Linked DNA regions of Homo sapiens. The protein of the gene in region 2 purifies or fractionates together with the protein of the main gene of each other region. This does not show direct contact. Each region holds a gene or a part of one and is shown on either strand. Other genes may lie near its edges.

Region 1 (7,027 bases), on a different chromosome or scaffold from region 2:
AACATGACGTTAAATCTTGTTGGTTTCTGCTCTGGAGAGTGTTTCCAACATCCCTGTTTTTTTCTGGTAAAGTTCTGGGACTGGCTCCATAAGTCTTCAGTCTCTTGATAACTGTGTCTCTGGTCTATTATTCTCAGGCCGAATGAGAGGCTTCCCAGTCAGATCAGCAATACCCACAGTTTGGGGACGGTTGAATTCAATGTAGTCGACTCGGCCACTAGCTAGATGAACAGCAAGCAGTGAAGTGTTGTTTAAATGACCTCCAAGGGCACATACAAGTTAATCATTGTGTCTATCTGATAAGCTCATCTAGGGCTTCTGCCTATGGCAGTGTCCTTGGAAAACCAGCTATATTAGGTGAGATTTTTCAGTTCATGAAGGGCCAGCCGAGTCGTAACATCATTTGGGATGAGTTTCCCTTGGTCAAGAAAAGCCTTGGCTAACATACCAATTTATGTGCCCTGTAGCATGTTGTCCTGGAGCAGTCCCTGCTGGAGAGGTGCCTCAGCTTGAAGTGTTTGGTGATGTACAACAACACAGTGCCCTTGCCTAAGCCCAGGTCTGGGGCCCCCATGATCACTGCATGCAGTAGCTGCGGAGATGCCCCTGCAACCATGGACAGAGGCCCAGGCTGTGCCAACTGTAGGGCTTTCGTCTGACCTGTGCACTCACCTGATCCACAGCCAAGGTCCCAGATGGTAGAAAGCACTTTTATTTTTTTTTGTTCAAGTTAACCAGTGCTTTCCTTTTCCTCTATAAAATGTGCTGGCTTGGAAACAATTCAAACATTCACCCATCAGTAAATGGATAAACACATTTTGGTATATCCATGCAATGGAATATTATTCAGCCATAAGAAGAAATGAAGTACTGATAAATGCTACAATATGGATGAACCCTAAAAACACTGTGCTCAAAGAGGCCAGACACAAAGGGCCACCTTTGGTATGATTCAATTTATATGAAACACTCAGAATAGGCAAATTTATAGGGGCAGAAAGCAGATTCATGGTTGCCAGGCCTGCCAGAGGAAGAATGGGGAGTGACTGCTAGTGGGTGTGGGAGTTTCTTTTGGGACCTGCTAGCTGTAGGGTCACTTTTTTTTTTAATGTGGTAAAATACACATAAAACTTACCGTGACATTTACTACATTTGCAATGTTGTACCACAGTCACCACTATCTAGTTCCAGAATATTTTTATCACCCCAAATGTAAGCTCTCTTTTGATCTTTGAAGGTGAAAAATATCACTAGAATATATCTGAGGGAGGAATATCTTAGTTCATTGATCAGGTTTAATACTCAGTATAACTTAGTCCGAAAGTTAAAGTTCTTTTTTTTTTTTTTTTTTTTTTTTTTTTTAAACCCAAAGAAGTCGTAGTCTTATTTGATTATTGCTTTCTCCATCTGTTCCTTCTGGAACTCCTACCTCACACTGCAGTTCCTGTATCTTCCTTCCCTTTCTTTTATCTTCTCACTAGTGGCTTCCTTTGCATTTTTGTTTCGTATCATGAGGCAACTTCCTGTTTGATCTTCTTCGGTTTGAGTTTTAAGAGTATCGATTCTATTTTTCAATTCAATTGAATGTCAAAAAACTGTAAAACCATATTTTTACACATCGTATTTTTAAGTTTGCTTTTTTTTTTTTTCTTGAGACAGAGTCTCACTCTGTAGTCCAGCCTAGAGTGCAGTGGCGCAATCTCGGCTCACTCACTGCAACCTCCGCCTCCCGGTTCAAGCGATTTTCCCGCTTCAGCCTCTGGAGTAGCTTGGACTGCAGGCGCGCACAACCATGCCCGGTTAATTTGTTCCCTTCTATTTCTCACATTAAATTTGCCTTACAGGAGCCATTCATTTTGGCTGTTTAGCTTGGTTTTCTGTTCCTCAAACTACTGTTTTTTTTTGTTTTTTCCAAGACAGGGTCTCACTGTCTCATGCAGCTGGAGTGCAGTGGCAAGATCTCGGCTCACTGCAACCTCCGCCTCCCGGTTCAAACGATTTTCCCGCCTCGGCCTCCGGAGTAGCTGGGACTACAGGTGTGTGCCACCACGCCTGCACTCGGCTAATTTTTGTATTTTTTTGGTAGAGAGGGGTTTCACCATGTTGGCCAGGCTGGTACTGGGTTTAATTTTTTACATGATCTTTGCCCGATTCCATCAGCTGCCACCGGTTCCTTTAGCATTTGTGGAAGCTCGATTGATGGACTCTTTCTGGGCAGCAGAGAATTGACAGGTGGTGAAAACTAAGCTAGGAATTATCCAATCAGCTGACATTGAGAGCCATGCTCAAGGCTAAACAGAAAGCAAGCAGAAGCAGTTTCCCTAGTTATTGGGCTATGGCACTTGGCTCACCTGGCTGGGCCACTGTCTTTGCCAGAAGCTTAGCCAGGAATCAGGCTACTTTCTAGGTGGCGGGGCTGTCCTTCCTCCCAGCTTTGTGAACAGTAAGGATAGAAGGTATCCAGAGGCAAAACTACTAAATGGTCTCCTCAGAAGCCCAAAGCCTAAGATGTGCTTAGCACAGACTCACTCCAGGTTCCACACTATGCTTTGCACCACCACATCTACTACCTACCTATATTTCAGCCATTCTTCTTTGTAGTTGAATCACCCCAGGAGGAAATTTAGAGTGCTAGGGAGTTATAGAAACATACATAAGCCATCATTTCCAAAAACTTAATTAAGGTAATTCCCCGTTTATAGTATTGTCTGAAGATAATTATTTATATAATGGAAGTAACCTTAAGTCTTAGGAATATAAATCTTATTGATGAGTGAAGCCCCAATTACGGCCCAAAGAGATGGAAGGACTCATGCCAGAGTGTCTCTGCTGTACAGGTAGGATTAGAGATTGGCCTTTTATTTTCTAATATAGGGATCTTTTCAATATGTAGACCCATGGCTACCTTTTAAAAATTCCTTCAGTATATTCACCTGCATAGCTATTTCTCTTCCTGCTCCATCTAGTCCAATCCCTTTTCTGGATATTAGGCTAAGTCTCATTTTTATTCCCTTCACCTGACTTTTACTTCCTCCTGAAATTTATTCTGCTGCTTTCCACCTGCCTTCCAAGATCTCTCTCTCTGTGCTCACAGTGAGGGGGTATGCAGGAAGGAGTACTAAAGTGTCCGGAAGGAGGAAAGCCTACAAAAAGTAGGGACAGAGGAGACTTGCCAAAATTCTGAAGCATCTTCAGGAGCCCTTTGCATCAGTCTTTGCGTTCTTGTCATTTAGCACCCCTCTTCTTTTCTCCTGGGTCAAATATCTTAGCACTGACTGGATTCTTTGACCCCTCTTTATACTTTCCTTCATTCTACTTTTCTTTCCTCCCTGCTTTCCTAGCACTCCTATACCAGCGCTCTTCCCTTTCTTTAAAGCCTCTGAATCACAACAAGCGTAGGAAAATGGAATTAGAGTAGTCCCCCTTATCCATGGTTTTGCTTTCTGTGGTTCAAAAACATTAAATGGAAAATTCCAGAAACAAACAATTCATATGTTTGAAATTGTGTGCTGTTCTGAGTTGTGTGATGAAATCTCACGTCATCCTGCTCCATCCTGCCTGGGACAGAAATCATCCCTTTGACCAGCATATCCATGCTGTATAACCTACCTGCCTGTCACTTAAGAAACCATCCTGGTTATGAAGTGGACTACCCTAGTATTGCAGTGCTCTGTTCAAGTAACCCTTATTTTACTTAATAATGGCCCCAAAATATAAGAGTAGTGATGCTAGCATATTGTTAAAGTTGTTCTATTTTATTATTATTGTTGTTAATCTTTTACTGTCTAATTTAGAAATTAAACTTCATCATAGGCATGTATGTATCATAAAAAACACAGTATATATAGGATTCAGTACTATCTGCAGTTTCAGGCATTCACTGGGGGTCTTGGAACGTATCCTGCAGATAAGGGTGGGCTACTGCACAAACATCTGGACGTTCATTCATGTGCCACTAAGGATCATCACACAGTGAAAAGCATACCACACTCTGGAAGGCTCTGATCAACTTTTTCTGCTTCTCCTATCACAAAATAGAAAATACTTTATTAATAGCTTCAAAATGGCTATAGCAGTCCCTCAGTTAGTATCTTAATTTATAGACTAAGGTTATGTTTTCTAGTATAAAACAGCATTTTGACAATGTGGGGAGGCAGCAAGGTGTAGTAGCTAAGAATTAGATTACTTGAGTTCCAATCCCAGCTCGTTCATACACTAGCTATGTGACCTCTGGCAAGTTACCTAACTATAAGTTGCCTCATCTGTGATAGACCTTAGCATATCATAAGTGCTTAAATAAAAGGAAACATTCATAATCATGTTACTATCACCACATGCAATCCTTATTCATTGTCCTAGATCCGTGAAAAACCATTAAAAATGCCATTTTGTGTTTTAGAAAATGTTGATATAATATTTAATAAGCTTGCTGCTGCCCAGGTTAATATGCATCTCTCTAAGCCCCTCTTAAATTTTATTACTAGAAAACGTTCTAGTGGACAATGTCTTTAAGGTTAAATGCGGATACTTAAAATCAGCCTTTTTAAAAAATTAAATTAGAAATAAAGGATAAAACAAAATAAACACACAACAGGAATCTGATATTTCTTACCAAGACAATTTGAAGCATCAACTTGTTCTTTCAAAAAATCAACACACATTTTCTTCACAGGTTCAATCTGATATTGGTTTGCTGCATCCAGCAAAGACTGAACATTGTTGCTATTCACGGAAATTCTGCAAATAAGTTAGAGGGAATATTAGTTACCCATGATTTTTTATTATTTAAATGTTACTGTGGAATGTATCCTAATAGCCCCTGAAATTAAACACAAAATTAAACTTTCAGTCCTTGAATTAGTATGGCATAGGATACTGAAACTCTTCCATCCTTGCGGTTTTTCATTTTGAAGAATTTGTAGTGCAACTATTTGTTACGACAATGCTTTGCCATGGTAGATACCAACATTACTTCTCTAAAATAAAAATAATACTTAACTCACCTAGCAGTATAAGCAAATTCCACCAGTTGTTCAATAATATCAGGTTCAGCATCTTTGAGTTCTACTTCAAAGGACTTTGATTCAAGCATGTTAGCTACAATGAAGAGAAGAAACATAAATGGCATCTGTACTACCACAAGTTTGACTGAGGAACCACGGCATTCCAGGCCATGTTAAATATGCAGAAAAATAACGGGACAGTTCTCTCTGGAAGAAAATGCCCCAGCAAGCCCAACATTTCTATAGTCAATGCAAATTAATTCTCCACCCAAGATGTGCCTTAAATTAAGCTAAGAAAAGAGTGAATTAGTGTACTTCTTTTTAAGACCATATTAACAGAAACATAAAACTAGATTTTGTTTTTTTCCCAAGCTCATAAAATAGTACTAAGTAGAGGAAGTAGGACTTGGACCCAGTTCTGAACACCAAATCCAGGGTTCTTTCTGGCACAATATGCTACAGCTATTTTTTTTTTAAAGTTTAACTTGCCGGCTAAAATATTATGAAATTTATCTGCTTCTTTGTCTTTCCACCTAAGGTTAAAAAGAAAACCCTGGGCTTTTTTTTTTTTTTTTTTTTTTTTTTTTTTTTGAGACAGAGTCTCGCTCTGACGCCCAGGATGGAGTGCAGTGGTGCAATCTCGGCTCACTGCAACCTCCACCTCAACCCTGGGCTTTTAAGTAGAAGCTGTACCTCCATCAATAAAGGCATCAGGCCTTTAGGTCTAATGAAAGGACATTTTTTCCTTTGGTTATCAGCTGACTACTTTTTCAATCTCTTCACTGTTCTGTGGCCTTAAGTTCTTAACTGCTTTAAAAATTAGAAAAATGACATATTCTCTTTTAGATTTTACTTCATTCTCATAGAAGAAATAATGGCATGTTTTACCTTAAGATACTTACTTGTGAACATTAAGTTAAAAAAATGACTGGCTGCAGCAAGAACAACACGATGAGCAGGTATCTTTCTTTCCTGGACCATGAGGATCACGTCACACAACGTTTTCTAATCAAAGGAAAAATACATAAAATAAAAAGAGGCTCACTAGCCTAGCTTGGCAATACATGTTAAAAAGGTGCTTGCCAAATGCTTTATCTCTATTTTCTATTTAAAGCCAATCTTTTTCCAGCGCAGAATTTCTTTTGAAGACATATTTAGAAAGGACTTACAGAGTCGCTGCCATGTAGTATAAAAATTTTGCACTGAGTTTTCCAACAGTCAAGAGGAAAGAAAAAGTTCCTCATAATCAGAAACAAGTCTACTAACCCTTCAGAGAAGTCTTTTTTTTTTTTTTTTTCTGACACAGATTCTAGGACATTTCTCATGGTAAGCTTTTCTGGGGGAAATTCAATGACATCATGGCAGTGCCCCTGACACCCTGACAGTTTTTCAAACACAGCAATTAGTTTTTATATGATTTATTTTCCATTATTTATCCTTGATGAAATTGAGAACATACACTGCATTTCCTAAGAAAGTAGCATTCACAGATCTAACTTGAAACAGAAACAGCTCAGAATACAGAGAGGAGATGAACTAAATGTCCTTTCAGCAATCTTTTATTAAATAACACTTCTCTCAAATGCACTTCTGATAGAAGCTGGATAGCAGCCAGTTTTAAATTCTGATTTCTGACCAACGTCAAAATAGTATCACCATAAGCTGCTTAAAGAAGGCAGCTCTGAGTAATACTTAATTAAAATGTGGGGAAAACGGAATAATAAAGAAAAAATTTAAGGCTTACTAGAACACTTATAAATGAATATCAAGAAAAATAAATGTCCTTTTTGCCAAATAAAATCTTAATTTCTTAACGAAGTTAAAGACAAAATATAGAGATTAGGCTTACAGAAAACTTGGTGTATACAATGTATTAAAGACTGTCCTAGGCACTGGGAATATGAGGCAAATAATATATTCAGAGTAAAAAAAATATCGCTTACAAATCTAAGATTGGCTTCATGGCTCAGAGGATTTGCATTTTGCAAATTTTAAGTATTTTACTAAAACTGTTAATATAGTTT
Region 2 (7,027 bases):
GAGAATGATGGTTTCCAGCTTCATCCATGTCCCTACAAAGGACATGAATTCATCCATTTTTATGGCTGCATAGTATTCCATGGTGTATATGTGCCACATTTTGTTAACCCAGTCTATCACTGATGGACATGTGGGTTGGTTCCAAGTCTTTGCTATTGTGAATAATGCCGCAATAAACATACGTGTGCATGTGTCTTTGTAGCAGCATGATTTATAATCCTTTGGGTATACACCCAGTAATGGGATGGCTGGGTCAAATGGTATTTCTAGTTCTAGATCCCTGAGGAATCGCCACACTGACTTCCACAACAGTTGAACTAGTTTACAGTCCCACCAACAGTGTAAAAGTGTTCCTATTTCTCCACATCCTCTCCAGCACCTGTTGTTTCCTGACTTTTTAATGATCGCCATTCTAACTGGTGTGAGATAGTATCTCATTGTGGTTTTGATTTGCATTTCTCTGATGGCCAGTGATGATAAGCATTATTTCATATGTCTGTTGGCTGCATAAATGTCTTCTTTTGAGAAGTGTCTGTTCATATCCTTCACCCACTTTTTCATGGGGTTGTTTTTTTCTTGTAAATTTGTTTGAGTTCTTTGTAGATTCTGGATATTAGCCCTTTGTCAGATGAGTAGATTGCAAAATTTTTCTCCCATTCTGTAGGTTGCCTGTTCACTCTGATGGTAGTTTTTTTTGCTGTGCAGAAGCTCTTTAGTTTAATGAGATCCCATTTGTCAATTTTGGCTTTTGTTGCCATTGCTTTTGGTGTTTTGGACATGAAGTCCTTGCCCATGCCTATGTCCTGAATGGTATTGCCTAGGTTTTCTTCTAGGGTTTTTACGGTTTTAGGTCTAACATTTAAGTCTTTAATCCATCTTGAATTAATTTTTGTACAAGGTGTAAGGAAGGGTTCCAGTTTCAGCTTTCTACACATGCCTAGCCAGTTTTCCCAGCACCGGCTAACTCCCTTTATCCACCATTGAGGCAATCACTGTTATCTGTACAACTGTTCAGACCTCTTTTTATGTATTTATCCATCTACATGCAGAAAAGTAAAATGTTTTGAGATTTAAAACAATACACAGGATACTACACATATTATTCTACAACTTGCTGTTTTTACCCAACAAGACATCCTGGAGTTCTTTCCTTTCATAACATAGATATACCTCATTCTTTTTAGTTGCTATAGAATACGTGTATGAACATATTATCCATTTTCCTACCGATGTACATTTAAGTCGTCTCCAATTATTCTGTTTTACCAACAAGGCAACATTGAATATCTTTGTATATGCCTCTTCTCTAAATGTACAACTGTTGATGCAGGGCAAATAGGTAGAAGTAAAAATGCATGGTGTATAGACATTTAAATTCTTAACAGATATAGCCAAAATGCTCTCCAACATTGCTTTATCAATTTAAACTCACAACAACAATGAGGAAAATACTTATTTCCCTAAACCCTCACCAAAGACTGAGATAAACTTTCCTTTTTTTGTAAATTGATGTTTTAAAATTTTATTTCCCTGATTAATTTTTACTTTACCAATATTTTCATGTTTACTGGACATTTGTATTTCCTTTCCTGTGAGATGCCTATTCGTATCCTTTATTTTTCTAATGGCCTCTTGTTTTTAAGTCTGTATGAATTATTTATATAATCTGGACATAATAAATAGAGAGGCATAATAGCACAGTAGGTTAAGAGTTAACAGGATGGACTCTAGAGCCAATCTGCCCAGTCTGATTGATAGCTCCACCATTCACCAGCCATCTAACCTTGGTCAATTTACTTAGCTTAGCTATTGTGTATCTGTTTCCTCATAATGTGTAAAATGGGGATAATAATGGTATTTTTAGAGTTACTGTAAGGATTAAATTAGTTAATACGCATAAAGTGCTTTAAAACAGTGCCTGGCAAAGAATTCAGTGTTATACACATTTCCTTTGTCTGAAGGATACACTGCAAATATTTTCTCCCAATCTATTGTCTTTTAACTTTTGTTTATAAGTCTTCACTTACCTTTCCTCAAGCAGTTCTTTCTCAATTTCTCAACCATCAGACGTTATATAAGTAGATGAAACTTACAACTGACTGCCCTCACTGGATCTCACAATCAACTTAAGAATAAATTCAGGCATCAGCCAAAGTATACAGATTTTTTAAATCTTTGCACAGGTTTTAAAATAATAGCTAACTTCCTTACAGCATAAAGCATTTTCTCACAAATCAAGAAGACTGTAACTCACCAGAAAAAAAAGGACAAAAGAAATAGACCAGTTCACATAGCACATCAAAAAAAAAGGCTCTTAAAAATATGAAGAGATCCTATAACTTAATTTCAAGCCTTAGAAAAATTTAAAATTTAAAAATTAGGGCCAGGCGCAGTGGTTCACGGCTGTAATCCCAGCACTTTGGGAGGCTGAAGCAGGCAGATCACGAGATCAGGAGATCGAGACCATCCTGGCCAACATGGTGAAACCCCGTCTCTACCAAAAATACAAAAATTAGCTGGGCGTGGTGGCACATGCCTGTAATCCCAGCTACTCGGGAGGCTGAGGCAGGAGAATCGCTTGAACCCGGGAGGCGGAGGTTGCAGTGAGCCAAGATCGTGCCCTGGTGACAGAGCAATCCTCACTCTCATTTAAAAGTGCAAATTAAAACTACAAATTAAATGTTCCTTTTTATTTCATAGACCAGTAAAGATTAAGAAGTTTTAAAATACACCCTACGTGGGTATAAAGAAATAGGCAGTCATACATTGCTGGTGAGAGCTTAAATTGCTATAGTTTAGCATTGTCTTTCCAAAATAAAAATGCACATATCCTTCAATTCATCAATTTAACATCTATCTAGAAATGTATCCTACAAAAAGACACTCATATTAAAAATGACATGCTTACAAGGTTATTCATTGTAGTAATGTCTGTAATAGCAATGACTGTTTACAACCTAAGTGTCAACTAATAGGGGACTGGCTAAATAAACTGTGGTACAGCCAAATGATGAAATATTATGCAGTTGTTTAAAAAATAAGGCAGATCTCTCTTTATGTGAATGTGAAAAAATCTTCAAGCTATGTTGTTAAGTGTAAAAAAGCAAGATACAGAAAAATGTATATATTTTGCTATAATTTGTATGTTGGTGGAAGGAATATATTAGTGCACATAAATTTATGTTTGTAAATGCTTAATTTCTGGAAGAACACACAACAAAAAGGATATAACAAATTGGTAATGCTTGCTTCTTGGGAGGGAATGGCTAGAAGATAATGAAAGGAAGGAATACTTTTCAATGTATATACTGTTTTGTACCTCTTGAATTTTGTACCAAGTGTTCATATTATCTAATCAAATAGAATTAATATATCAAATATATATGCAAACAAACTAAAATCTCACTGTAACTATACCAACCTTTCTACTGATACCTTTTAAATGATAGCACAGCAGGTTGCCATCATTTAGGTAGGGTATGTGGCTAATCTATTTGTGACAAAAGCAGAAATTCACTATCCTAGCTGCCCAACATCACCCCCTATGGAACTTTTGAAACCAGAAATTCTGACTTAGTAGGTCTGGGGTACAGTCTGGGCATCATAATTTTTTTAGTTCACAGGTGATGGTGACAGACAGTCAGAACTGAAAATAGCTGAGGTAGACCATGGCACAAGTAACTAAACATCCAGGTTCAATCTCCACCTAGGTCATAACCATAGTTTCATCACTAATCCTAACCACTTCACAAAGTTCTTAAGAAGGAACAGTTAAGAGTGTGTAGACGGCACAGTGAAAATCTTACCACCTCTCAATATATAAACAGATAAGTAGTATAATCTCTGTGTATTAAATGTAGTACATTTGCAACATTCATAGTAATAAGTTAATCTCATATAGCATTCTAGAAAGAACTTTGATAATAGTGGACTAGTGCCGAACAGGCCATCAACTGTGTGACACTTGCTGTCTCTGTTAGATTCTTCATTTGTAAAATGAAGGGTAAGAACCTTTATTTTCTCTACCTTCATGTTCTCTACCTTCCAGCTTTAAATTTCTATAATTGTCTAAGAATACAGATGTCTAAAAACAGCTATTGCTTAGTATAGACTTTAGGATAAAATAGGATCTTTCATCCGATTCACAGCTTAGGCCCATTTCAGTCCAGTGGGTTAGCGTCTCTTAACAGACCCTTCGATATGTATTACGTGCTGCTGAATTAATTAACAGTCACAGAAAAAAAATTTAGAATTCAAACGCTCTTATCTAATAAATCTTAAATATTTTTAAAACAGTGAATCATGCAAAACAAGTGTACTAAATACATTTAAACACTAAAATAAAGCATCTGATGTACTGCCTTAAAGCAAATGGTTCAAGTTAAAAAGCAATAATCAAAATGGTAGAAGGGATGTTAAAGACCATATCCAAACCTCTAATTTTACAAGTAAGGAAATACGGGCTCAGCAAGGTTAAAGAATTTGCCCAAAGTCATTGTCATTAATGACAGGAAAACAAATTTGTCATTTATGGTTCTCTGTATGTGTACTGATACAAACTTTTAATGTTTATCACTTTAGATAGGGGTTTTTGATAACTAAAATTACATACAAACCTAAAGAGATGCCATAAAAATGTCTTAATACACATAAAAAGCTTAACTTACATGAATATATGACTATACAACATTTTGTTTGCAGTTCTCAAAAGAGAATAGAACTTTATTAGTAGCAAAAACATGTAATCTGATATTATTGTCAAATAATTTCATAAAGCACATTAACAAGGAAATAGGATTAGCAGCTATGATTAAAGGATAAAATGATGGTTTTATTCTGGCTATATTAGTCACTTAAGGATCTATTCAAAGAGTTCTAAGTTTTAAAAAAACAACTCTATGAACTCACTGAGGTTTACCTCCCGTCTTCCACAGAGCAAATGATTAGCAGACTGCTCTGTGAACTTTTACAAAGAACCCTTTTCTCCCCAGTTTCTATCCATCTGAAAGATGGATTCTTCCTCCATCCTAAATAACTCATCATCTCATTTCAAATATCTGATAAAAATGAACTCTTAGCATGAATACACCCTTTTTAATCTCTTCCACTCAACTTTACTGGATAGTCAATAAAATGTTTTGATTTATACTTCACAGAATTAAATAGACGGTTTTATTCAAACCTGTCATGTCAAATTAAAACACTTAATGTGTAAAGTATGAATATGAGATTTTCTTTTCCAAGCTCCAGGACCAATTAGTAACAATATTCAAATGCCCTAATAATAAGTAATCAGAGCATTAAGAAAAATTTAATCTTTTTCCTAACAAGGCAACTTTGGCATCAATTCAAACCTAAGCTTAGTGGGCACTGTGATTTTGAAAGGGATGAACTTCCTGATGCAGACTCATACAGTTTTCTCTTAATACTAACACCTTCTAGTTTTTTTAGGTATATAATTTATAAAATACTTTCATATCTAGTAATTATCCACAGGATAACATTGTGAGGTAGGGCATATTCTAAAGGCCTATTCTGTTCTAGGCATTGTGCTGACACTGGGATGATTTTTTAAAAATGAACAAGAATCAATTCTATCTTGAAAGAGCTCACAATCTAACAGGAGAAGTGAACAAATGATTTCTATGAAATGTGCTATAATAAGGAAATGAGCAAGGAATTGTGTTCCCCAGCAGCAGAGATGCTGGCCAGAGATGGCACTGGAAGTGTCTCAGAAGGTTTTGGGAAGGAGATCACATAGAGCAGGCTTTTGAGGGATGAGTAGGAGCTTCCTGACATAAAGATGGGGTGGAGTAAAGAAGAAAGACAATCCCAAGCAGAGGGAACAACCTGTATACAATGGATAGTGGAAAAGCATCATTCCCATTTAAAAGATGCGGAAGGTAAGCTTCAAGATAAGTGAGCTGGCTAACGCCATATGAAGATTAATTAACAACGTTTAAAGAAGAATATAGGTCTTCAGATTTTAATCAGCTTTGTACACCTGGAAACTCCAGTATACATTGGACAAGAACATCAGATGAAGATTAGTTTTTATCTCCTACTTTACTCCTTCCTAAGAGATGGTCGGTGTATGACCCAGATCCTGGGGAGTGAGAAAGAGCAGGCAGAGATGAGGAGGGGCAGAGTAGGGAGGGAGGCTTATTTAAACCTCATAACAACCCGTGAGATAGGTATTTTTACTATCCCCATTTTATATATGAGAATATGAAGGCCCAAAGACATTAACAAAAGTTGGAAATTAGGTGAAGATTCAAACCCAGGTAACTAACTTTTTCACCCAGCCTCTAAGCTCAAGCACTTAACCATACCCTATAGATCTTCCCTACTCTGTCAAATAACCCTAGGCTATTCTTGGTCTGAAGACACCAGAGAAACTAAGTGAGTTTTGGAACACATAGTCCCACAGATCTCGCACTGTACCACACATCTGAAAATTCACACAAAATTTTCCCATTTGGCTCTCTTATTGATCTGGTATTCCTTGAGTAGATAAGCCCACACATATGGTGGCATGGGTGCTCTCCGCAACATTTTTACAATCTAATGTAATTGGATAAGAGGAAACTTAACAAGTGCTAATCAAAAAGGAGGTCACCAAATAACAGCATGAAGCCTGAAGATACATAAAGGAGGAAGCCCCAATCCCTCTTTTCTGTTTGAATACGGTTTTTTTTTTTTTTTTTTTTTTGAGGGGAGGAGGGAGCATGCAAATGTGTTTCAGGTGTTCTAGCATACTTGCTACTCGCTACACAGGAGTGCAGACCGAAGAATGGAGTCGAGTACACCCCTAATTTCCTTTATCAAGGGTTCATATGACAACCTTAGGATATCAAACAACCAAACTCACCTCTTGAAAAAGTTTAAGGAAGCAGACAATTCAGAACTGTCATGGTTTCCTAGCGCAAACTGCAGCAAATCCAGGGTTGCTGACAATATTTTGTCTTATAGATGGATCTCGAATTCCCTGGGTTCGTTTGAGCGCATATAAAACACCTGAAACATA

What was found. The genes of interacting proteins can lie anywhere in the genome.
Region 1: the proteins of RASA2 (region 2) and KLHL7 purify together in Homo sapiens (affinity purification with western blotting; 2 studies listed by BioGRID and IntAct, with this or other methods). This does not show direct contact.

Annotation. Positions count from the first base shown.
Region 1 is NC_000007.14:23,122,758-23,129,784, reverse strand, and holds part of KLHL7 (kelch-like protein 7), read right to left. Parts: intron 6,009-7,027; coding exon 5,906-6,008; intron 5,098-5,905; coding exon 5,004-5,097; intron 4,738-5,003; coding exon 4,613-4,737; intron 4,025-4,612; coding exon of another isoform or gene 3,966-4,024; exon of another isoform or gene 3,735-3,965; intron 1-3,734. UniProt on the Homo sapiens protein: Substrate-specific adapter of a BCR (BTB-CUL3-RBX1) E3 ubiquitin ligase complex. The BCR(KLHL7) complex acts by mediating ubiquitination and subsequent degradation of substrate proteins. Probably mediates 'Lys-48'-linked ubiquitination.
Region 2 is NC_000003.12:141,490,021-141,497,047, reverse strand, and holds part of RASA2 (ras GTPase-activating protein 2), read right to left. Parts: intron 1-7,027. UniProt on the Homo sapiens protein: Inhibitory regulator of the Ras-cyclic AMP pathway. Binds inositol tetrakisphosphate (IP4).